Linked DNA regions of Homo sapiens: region 2 is linked to region 1. The links come from fine-mapping of genetic effects on gene expression. A gene starts in region 1. The other region holds a variant in brackets. All regions are shown on one strand. Distances are from middle to middle.

Region 1 (5,377 bases):
AATCTTGCAATTTAACTCACTCCTGGGTTAGTGACATGTATTTCCATTAAGTGGAATCACATCTTTCACTTGGTTAAACCACATTCCAAAGCCTTCCCATTAATTAATTAGAACAAAATCCACATTTTTGACCTTGGCCCTACAGATCGGCCTCTCCTGCTTTCTGACTTTCTCTCACACTGCTCCCCTTGCCTACTAGGTCTCAGCACTCCTTGCCTTTTTGTTTCTGAAACAAACTAAGTTCATTTCCAGCTGAAATCCTTACACCTGCTTGTCTCCTCACCTGGAATGTTCTTTACCTACCTTTGAGTTCCTCCTCCTTCACCATTCAATTCTCTGCTCAAAAAGGCCTTCCCTGCCAGGCACGGTGGCTCATGCCTGTAATCCTAGCACTTTGGGAGGCTGAGGTTGGCGGACTGCCTGAGCTCAGGAGTTTGAGACCAGGGTGGGTAGCATGGTGAAACTCCGTCTCTACTAAAAATACAAAAAAATTAGCCAGGCCTGGTGGCGCCCGCTTATAATCCCAGCTACTTGGGAGGCTGAGGCAGGAGAATTGCTTGAACCCAGGAGGTGAAGGTTGCAGTGAGCCGAGATCACGCCACTGCACTCCAGCCTGGGTGACAAAGCGAGACTCTGTCTCAAAAAAAAAAAAAAAAAAAAAAAAAAAGGCCTTCCCTCACTACCACTCTGTATACAATAACCACCTTCTACTCCCATCCTCTCACCCCATTTTATTTTCTCCAGAGCATGATTTGAAATTGTCACTTGCTTATCTGTTTAATCTGTTCCCTGCTTTGGTTACCATGTCCCCAGCAGCTCAAACAGTGTGGTAGGCACTCAGATGTTACTGGCTTCTCAATGAACATTTGTTGACTAAATGAAGTGCAATGAGAAGGATGAAGGCAAAAGTATATACTTATCCTAGCACTTAACAGGAGCAGGGGGCCTCACCGCCTCAGCAAAAATCCAAATTAGCCATTTAAGACTTTAAGTTTGCAAGAATGTACGCAAGAATGTACTCATTTAGTCAGCCAATACTGACTGAACACCTACAACGTTTAATACACATCTGGGTGGCTGGGCGTGGTGGCTCACACCTATAATCCTGGCACTTCGGGAGGCCAAGGCAGGCGGATTGCCTGAGGCCAGAGTTTGAGACCAGCCTGGGCAGCATGGAACCTGGTCTCCACTGAAAATACAAAAAAATTAGCCAGGCATGGTGGCGTGGGCCTGTAGTCTCAGCTACTTGGGAGGCTGAGGCATGAGAATCGCTTGAACCCGGAGGGGTGGAGGTTGCAGTGAGCCACTGCATTCCAGCCTGGGCGACATACACTGTCTCAAAAAATAATAATAAATAAATATATATATGTATATAAATAAATGTGTATATATATGTGTGTGTGTGTATATATATATATATATATATATATATATATATATATATACACACACACATACACACACACCCCTGGGTATTGTGTTAAAACCTGCTGCTTGCCTCTGAGGTATTTTTAGACTAGATGGAGGGTGAGAGATGTGCATAATCAAAACATATGGAGAAATGGTTAAGTGCCACACAAAATGTGTATGGCAATTCAGACGCTGGACTGAGCAGTTGTCACTGGGAGAAGAAGCCTTAAAGGGTAAGTGAAGTTAAGACTGGCCTGGAAGAGTGAGAACTGGCATTCCAGGCAGATTGAACAACACACATAACACAAAACAAGCAGTCCAGACCTGTTGATTTTCTGGACTGGACTTCAATATGCTAGAGTAGATGTAGTGTGTAGGAAAATCAAGTCTGGGAAGGCAGGTAGGGCCCAAATTGTGAGGGGTCTTAAACAGTAGGTAGTGAGGAACTACCCATTTTGTTGTGAAAACTGTTCCTATTTATTTGTTTCCTTCCGAAGGGACGCATAGTCATATTAGTCTCATTCGGGGTCTGTGGCTGTTCTAAGGACGCTGCCAAGTTCTGGTTAGCAAGGAAAGCACCGTGCACGCCATCTGAGACGACAGTAACCTTCCTTACCTTAGACCATTCGGTGGTATCCACCCAGTAGAAGGTGATTTTTCGGGCGACCATGACTTCCCGGACTCTCTTGGGCAACAACTTCTCCATCACCTGCTTAGGGGTGGGCGGCAGGCGCTGGGCCTGGGCCTCGCACCCAGACACGAACTGCAGCAGCTCCCTCTGCGAGTGCGGACAGGGGGCCAGGAGGAAGACGGCGTTCACCAAGCCCCCGAGCGCGGCCTCGGCCTCCTTGGCCTCGCTCTCCACGTCCAGCAGTCTCCTCCCGCTGCTCCGCAGGATCGGCTTCGTGGGCGACGTGATCTCGGGCCGGTCCCACTGGTAGTCTAGCAGCGTCTCCATCAGGGCGCCGTGCGTGTGGGTGGCCCTGGGCGCCGGGCCGGGCAGGTGGGCGCGATCCTCGAGCCTGGCCTCCAGCTCCTCCTCAAAGTCCTCCCACGAGCGGGACCCCAGCTCGCGGAAGTCAGACACGCGGGACGGCCGGCTCCGCGCCCCCTGCGAGTCAAAGAACTTGAAGGCCCAGTGGACCCTGGCCAGGCCGAATCGGCAACTCAGATAGGTGAGGAGGCGCAGGGCGGCCCGCCGGACCCGGCTGTGGCGGGCGGCGCCGCCCGCGGTGTCCAGCAGCAGCATTACTTTGTGACAGCATGCCATATCGGCCGTGCCGCCGCCCCGGGGCCCCGGTCCGGGCCCGCGCCACCGTCCCTTAGTCCCTTCCTTCAGGGAAACAGCACCACTCACTGCTTTCCTTTGGGACCCTGGTCGAAAGGCTCCCGCGCTCTCCAGGAACTGCTGCTATTGGGGGAGCTAGTTTCCAAGGTTTGCTCCTATTGGCTGCTTGCCTTACGTAAGTTACGAGAGCAACTTCCATTTTTGGCGGTGATTGGAGGGGCAGTGGAGAAAACTTCAGTCTGATTGGTGGAGGGAGTGACGGTGGGCGGGTCTCTGTGGTCCGAGAGAAGCTTAGCATTCATTGGCCTGGGCCTTCGTTTTAAATTTTAAAGAGGTGGTGCCTCGGGGGCGTGTCGAGAAGTTTCGCCATTGGAAAGAGGCCAGCGTTTGTGCGCAGTCGTGAGTGCGGACTGCGGGGCCACGTTTCCCAAGACCGAGGAAAACTTAGTGCCGGGAGGGAATTTGGGATGGTTTGAATCGAACTTGTTGAAATCCCTGTGGACCGCCTAGGAAGTAGAATCTGACGACTACGGCTTTTTCTGTAATTTAAAAAATTTTATTAAAAATTAAAGGTTCACTCCCTTTGCCCCAGTAACTTCTAGGAGTTTATCTGCAGAAGGTAATCGGAGAGCCAGATAAAAGACGTCTGTACATCTTAGAGTTTATTTAACATCAGAAAAAATGGAAACAGTTTGGGAATGGTTAAATAAGGTATGGTACACGCCCAAGGGGAGCATCGTGCAGCTCCTTTTTTTTTTTTTTTTTTTTTTTTTTTTTTTTTGAAACGGAGTCTCGCTCTGTCTCCTAGGCTGGAGTGCATTGACACGATCTTGGCTCACTGCAACCTCCACCTCCCGGGTTCAAGCGATCCTCCTGCCTCAGCCTCCTGAATAGGACTACAGGCGCACGCCACCACCCCAGACTAATTTTTGTATTTTTAGTAAAGACGGAGTTTCACCATGTTGGCCAGGCTGGTCTCAAACTCCTGACCTTGTGATCCACCCGACTTGGCCTCCCAAAGTGCTGGGATTACAGGCGTGAGCCACCAAGCCCGGCCTAGTGCAGCTTCTTAAAATAGTGTTTTATTATGTAATGTTAGGTTTTAAAAGTGGACTGCAAGCAGCACCTGCAGTGAATTCCCTAAATTTTCTATCTACATGTATATATAGATAGAAATCACATGTAGATTTGCATTACAGATAGAAATTATATATCGCTATATAGATAGAATACATAGAATTATATATAGATAGGCCGGGCACGGTGGCTCACGCCTGTAATCCCAGCACTTTGGGAGGCCGAGGCGGGCGAATCACCAGGTCAGGAGATCGAGACCATCCTGGCTAACACAGTGAAACCCTGTCTCTACTAAAAAAAAAAAAACAAAACAAAAAAAAAAGGAATTATATATAGATAGATAATCATAGATAGAAGTTATATATAGATAGAAATGCATTTATATGCATATTTTTAAACTGTTAATATAATATTGTGTACCGGAAGTTGTCTGTGATGGTCTCTCCATGTGATTTTTTTTGAAACTTTTTTACACTTCCTCTTGCTGGACACCAGTGAACAGGCTGATTTCAGAGATGTGAGATGTGCCTCTAGGATCAGTGGAATATGGTATTTGGAAAGAAGAAGGGGACAAAAAATGAAGGTCGGTTACCTGAATATGTGTTTAGGGAGATTGATCCAATACTCCACACCATTGAATTCTGCTTGCTAAGTAATTCTGTTTCCACCTGGAAACAGAACAACTTCCTTTATATGCTTTGGCTACAACTTCCTTTATGTGCCTTGGCTTCTCCAATCAAAGTCCTCAGCAATTACTGCCTCATGTACAACAATTTTCTCTTTTGGTTGAGTTTTCTAGGGCTGCCTGCCATAACAAAGGATCAAACCCAAAAATTGCCTCACAGTTCTGAAGGCTTGATGTCCAAAATCAAAGTGTTGGCATGCACTTGCTCCCCTCCAGCCCCCATGGCTCTAGGGGAGAATCATCCTTTGACTCTTCTAGTTTCTGATGTTTGCTGGCAATTCTTGGTGTTCTTCCTGTGTGTCTTCCCGTCATCTTCCCTCTGTGCATGGCTGTCTCTGTGTCCAAACTTCCCTTTTATAAGGACACCAGTCATGTTGGATTAGGGCCCACCCTAATGACTTTATTTTAACTTGCTTACTTCTACAAGACCCTATTTTCAAATAAGATCACATTCTGGGGGATGCTGGGGGATAGGAGGACCTTAACATATCTTTTTTTTTTTTTTTTTTGAGATGGAGTCTCGCTCTGTCGTCCAGGCTGGAGTGCGGTGGCGCGATCTTGGCTCACTGCAAGCTCCACCTCCTGGGTTCCCGCCATTCTCCTGCCTCAGCCTCCCAAGTAGCTGGGACTACAGGCGCCAGCCACCACACCCGACTATTTTTTTTTTTTTGTATTTTTAGTAGAGACAGGGTTTCACCATGTTAGCCAGGATGGTCTCGATCTCCTGACCTCGTGATCCACCTGCCTCGGCCTCCCAAAGTGCTAGGATTACAGAAGTGAGCCACTGCACCCAGCCAGGACCTCAACATATCTTTTTGGGAGGACACAGCTCAGCTCATAACACCTTTCATCCTTATGCCAGTCATTCATTTCACTCATCCAACAACACTTACTATATACCAGGCACCATTCCTGCC
Region 2 (5,377 bases), 47 kb after region 1:
GCAAAGCTGGGTGAGGCCCCAGCTGGTGCTGCTGCTATCTAGGGGCTCTGGCTGGTGGGCTGGGTCAGTGGTCAGCAGTGGATACAGAAGACTTCCTCAGCCAGTTTCTTTCCCGCCTTGTCTGAGCTACCGGCTGTTGAGAGAACCTCCCACTTCTCTATCAACTCTGGGCCTTTGCACCTGATGCTTTCTTCAGTGCTTTTTTCTCCTGGCTCTTTCCTACTCATCTTTGAACACCCAGCTTAAAGCCACTTCCTCCAGGAAGCTGTCTCATAATAATAATAATTAAAAACCTGTCTCATAATAATAATCCTCAGCTGCTCCTGTCCTCACAGGTGTCTATCCAGGGCTCACTCTCACCACACTGCCGTATGGATGACTGTGCCCCTGTCTGCCTCCCTGCTAGCTCCTTGAAAAAGTCTAAACAGGCTTGATGTCTGGTCGGTGAGCTTAGGATCCAACAGTGCCTCTGCCACTTTCCATCTCCATGACTTTGAACAAGTCTCTGAATTTCTCAGAGCTTCACTTTCCTCATTGGTAAAATGGAGACAGCTCTTTTGAGGCTTGAATAAGATTAAAGGAAACACACTACGCGAAACTTTGCAGCCACAATTCAGGTGCGCAAGAAACATCACACTTACTTATTTTCTTTAGTTCAGGTTAAGTCTGACTGCAGTAGGCTGGAGGGAAGTTTCATTGCCCCTACTGGGCCTTCCTTCCTTCCTTCCCTCTCTCTCTGCTCACACAGTAATATTGGAAACTTTCGTGATGTGCAGAGAATGAGAGAAAGGCCTGAGATCTGGAGTCCCACCCTGGACATCAGAGATTTGTGCACTGGAGTGTGCAGGATGAGGTAGCAGGTAATAGGAAGCGGTCCCACCTCCATCACACACCAGCTATGTAGCCATGGGAAATTTGCTTGATCTCTCTGACTGTCAGTTTTCTCCTTCTTAACATGGGGATGATGATAGTGCCAACTCCACAGGGTAGTTCAAAGCACACAGCTGATCTATAGAAAGCTTTTAGCATAGAGTGAGTGCAAAGCATGTTGATTTAAGAAAGGTTAACTAGGCCGGGCACAGTGGCTCACGCCTGTAATCTCAGCACTTTGGGAGGCTGAGGCGGGTGGATCACTTGAGGTCAGGCGTTCAAGACCAGCCTAGCCAACACAGTGAAACCCGTCTCTACCAAGAATACAAAAATTAGCTGGACGTGGTGGTGGGCACCTGTAATCCCAGCTACTCAGGAAGCTGGGCAGGAGAATCGCTTGAACCTGGGAGGCGGAGGTTGCAGTGAGCCGAGATTGCGCCACTACACTCCAGTCTGAGTGACAGAGCGAGACTCCGTCTCAAAAAAAAAAAAAAAAAAAAAAGGAAAGGTTAACTATTGCTATTATTAGTATGTATAATGGGAGTCAATGTAAATTAAAATGATTATTATTGATGGTATAGTCAGCCATCTTGCTAATTCTTTTGTTTCTAATAATTTGTTTATTGATTCTTTTGGTTTTCAATGTGATCGCATAATCTGCCACTATAATTTTGTTTCCTCCTGTCTGAACTTTACTCCTTTAATTTCATTATCTTGTCTTATGACCTGACTTTGACCTCTGCAGCCATGCTAGGTAGAAGGGGTGACAGTGGGCATTGTCCTCATGTGGATTTTAAAGGAGATGCTTCCTATATTCCCCACAAAGAATGATGTGTTCCCATAGCCTAGAATTCCCCAAACTTTTTGGTACCAGAAACTGGTTTTGTGGAAGACAATTTTTCCATGGAGGGAGTAGGGGCGGCGGGTATGGTTTCTCATAAGGAGCATGCAACCTGGATCCCTCACATGCACAGTTCACAACAGGGTTGGAGCTCCTGTGAGAATTGAATCCCGCAGCTGATCTGACAGAAGGTGGAGCTAAGGTGGTAATGCTCGCTAGCCTGCCACTCACCTCCAGCTGTGCAGCCTGGTTCCCAACAGGCCACAAATCAGTACAGGGTGGTGATGGGGGACCCCTGCCACAGCCTTTCAGTAAATTAAGGTAATCAGTGTGTTTACCTTCTTTCATGCCTGTTTGTGGATCTCTCTCCACTGACCTTTAGACCCTTGACAACAGAGACTGCATCTGCCAAGAATTGGACAAATTCCCCCAGGGTTGAACTTAGCAGAGACTGGCATTAGCCAAGGGTCTAGGCTGCCTGCTCCATCCTGAGGCTGCCCCTGAGTCCAGCCTTCCACCCCATCTCCTAGCCCTCACCTCTCTCGCCAGATACTGAGTCCACCAGTGTTTTGATCTTGGACTTTCCCGCCTCCAGAACTGTGAGAAATAAATTTCTGCTAAGCCATCCATTTTCATTATAGCAGCCCGAGCAAGCTAAGACACCAGGTGAGGGGTCTGGGGCCTGGAGGACCATTGGTAGAGTCAGGGCCTTGGGGACTTGCTTTTGGAAACCCTGCCTGACATTATGTAGGAATGTGAAATCCCTAACATTTCTCATTAAATACAAATTTGCCATAAAATAATTTGAAATTATCCGGGGACATTTCTTGCTCTTCTTTTTGCTACCAAACCATACTTTTAAATTTTGTTACAACATTTTTCATATGTACAAAAAGGAGACAAAGAATAATACAGTACAAATCTGTGGGATTCACCACCTAACTTAAGAAATAAAATGCTACCTAGAGGGTTGAAACATCCTGTGTGGCCTCTCTGATCCACTCTCCTTACAGCAGAGATAACTACCACCCTAAATTTGGAGGATATTGTTCCCATTTATTTCCTTAAACTTTATATATATTCCTTACAGAGATCTAAAGTGT[T/C]TGCCTTTTTTTCAATTGTTACAATGATCTATTAAAATAATTTTTGTAATTTTGCATGTGAAGTTCTTTTGTTACGAGTTACATAAGTTATGCTTGTTCTGATTTTTTAGTCATCGTTAGTCACTTAAGTTCTTGAAGAAGGAGAATAATCTAGCCAATAAATTGATTTCAAGTGTTATGACATGTTTCAGACATAGTTTATAAAGTTGAAGTAATAGTGTGTTTTGTGGACATTTAGCAAAAGGGTCACTAATTTTGACTTTGCAGTTTTCCTTTCATATTTTGAAGCCAGTAATTTTTTTTCTCTAGTCTTATAAATGTTTACGTGAGTACGAAGACCTCCTAGGACCTAGCACTTTAAGGACTTCACACTACTGCCTCTCCCAGTCTTGCCATGAGAGTCCTCGATGGGTACACAGCAGCATTGATATCAGAAGCCAAACTAAAGGTGGTGGTTTGGAGCACCCACTGAGCCAGGCCCCTGTCCTAAGCATTTTGCATCTGTTAATTCACTGACTCCTATAAGGTAGGTGCTACTGCCAGCCCATTTTCCAGAAGAGGAAATAGACACAGCATGGTCACGGCTAGGTAGAAAGGGGTGGGGCTGGGATGTGAACCCAGGCAGTTTGGACACTTCATGATGCTTGCTGCCTGCCATTTTCTGAGCCCCAAATGCACACACATGTACATGTATTTTCTCAGACTCCTCACAAGAACCAGGAATCATCCCCATTTTACAGGAGAGGAGACTGGCCCAGAGAGGCTCAGGGACTTGTTCCAGGTCACACAGCTGAAAGTGACAGATTCTGTGATTCCAAACACTGCCTGTGCCTTTAAGTACTCCACACGACTGCCTCTCCCAAACTTGCCACAAGGCAGCCAGGGTGAGTTCCCTATACCCACTCACTACCTCCATCTCACCCCTCTTTCTGCTGTACAACCTTGCCGGGGAGGGGGGCAGGCGGCGGTCCTGCACGTGTTAAGAGAGGGCGTAGACAGGCACCAGGTGCCAGAGGACCTGACCTCACTGCAGTTCTCTGCCTCTATTAGCCCAGGGCCCCTGCAGTCAGGAGGAGGCTATTTGCAGGCCCTTGGCCCAGGCCTGGCCTCTCCTCACCCCTCCCCACCATCCTTCTCTTTCTCTGGGCTGCTGTCCTGCCCAGGGCAGGTGGCAACCTGGCTGGTTGCTTCCCAGGTGCGATAGTCTCAGCTGACTGCCTCTCCTCCCCCAAGATCGAGACTTATCGGTCATCAGAATCATTCCTGCCATCCAGACCCAGCTCAAGGTCATCCCCAGAAGGTTCCAGCACCTGCTTGCTGCACGGGCCCCCTTCTGCCTTGCCTAGAAATGGGGAGAGAGGGGGTGGCTGGTTTTTTTTTTTTTTAAGAGCCAGATCCTTGCCTGGAGTCCTCTATATTCCAGTGCAGGGAACAGAGCCAGAGTAAAGTTAGAAGGTGAAAGGACAGCAGGCTTTAGATCAGAAGACCAGGGTTTGGTCCCAGGCTCTGTGCCTCCCTTCTGTAACCTTGGACTAGTCACTTTCTCTTTCTGGGCCTCAGTTTCCCAAACTAGAAAGGGTGTTGTGGGGCTAGACACTCTCCAACATCCTTCTCTTCTAGGAGTGTGTGACTAAATCTGTCCCCTGAACCAGAATATTGGGTTTGTGACAGTATTGAGTTTATTATATTAACATATAATAAAAATTATATAGCATATTATAAATTAATTTTTCTTTAGTTAGAAATACTGGCAAACTCATCCCTTGCCATTTCAGGAGGAAGCCTCACGACTGTTCAGCCAAGAAGGAAAGAGGAGACTAAGATGGACCCAACATCTAGAGAAGAGAAGGTGGAAGCAGAGGCAGAAGTGAGAAGTGGGAAGCAGCAAGTGGGAAGGGAAGCCCAGCTTTCCAGTTCTGGCAGTGCAGAGCACTAGAACAGTAGACGGAGCTTTTACAAATGAAACGCCTGAACCTTACCGTAGCCAATCAAATTGGAATTTCTGGGAGTAGAGCTGGGTACGAGTGTTTTTGGAAACACCCCGGATGAGTGTGATGTTCCACGAAGGTCAAGAACCACCATTTAAGAGCAGTGGTTCTCAAACTTTGGCGTGCCTCTGAACCCCCTGAAGAGTTTGGTAAATACAGGACGCCAGACCCCACCTGCAGAGTCTCCCACCCAGCAGGTCTGAATGGGGCCTATATTCATTTCCTGTGGCTGCTGTAACAAATCACCACAAACTCGGTGGCTTAACCAACAGAAATCTATTCTCTTACAATTCTGGAGGTATGAAATTAAAAATGAGTCTCACTGGGCTACCATCAAGGTGTTGGCTGTGTTCCTTCTAGAGGCTCAGGGAGAATCTGTTTCCTTGCTTGCCCCCTCTTCTAGAGGCCACCTGCACTTAAAAGCTTTTTCCCACTTTGGTGTCTTGATTCTTTTTTTTTTTTTTTTGAGACAGAGTCTTACTCTGTCACCTAGGCTGGAGTGTAGTGGTGCAATCTCAGCTCACTATAACCTCTGCCTCCCAGGTTCAAGCAATTCCCGTGCCTCAGCCTCCCGA

The links. PIP is the estimated chance that this variant, and not a neighbour inherited with it, causes the effect.
Region 2: its variant is the best candidate, but not a certain one, in a credible set for the expression of TICRR in esophagus muscle (GTEx, PIP 0.83).

The regions. Positions count from the first base shown.
Region 1 is chr15:89,572,890-89,578,266 of GRCh38, reverse strand. TICRR (TOPBP1 interacting checkpoint and replication regulator) reads right to left here and starts at 2,798. Exons shown (of 22, transcript NM_152259.4): 1 at 2,027-2,798. The coding sequence starts at 2,680. RefSeq lists an enhancer at 1,871-2,399 and a silencer at 2,521-2,810.
Region 2 is chr15:89,525,697-89,531,073 of GRCh38, reverse strand. No RefSeq gene overlaps it. Among named protein-coding and RNA genes, the nearest start is that of LINC00928, 4.4 kb to the right of the region's middle. The variant T/C (reference allele first, on the strand shown) is at 2,815.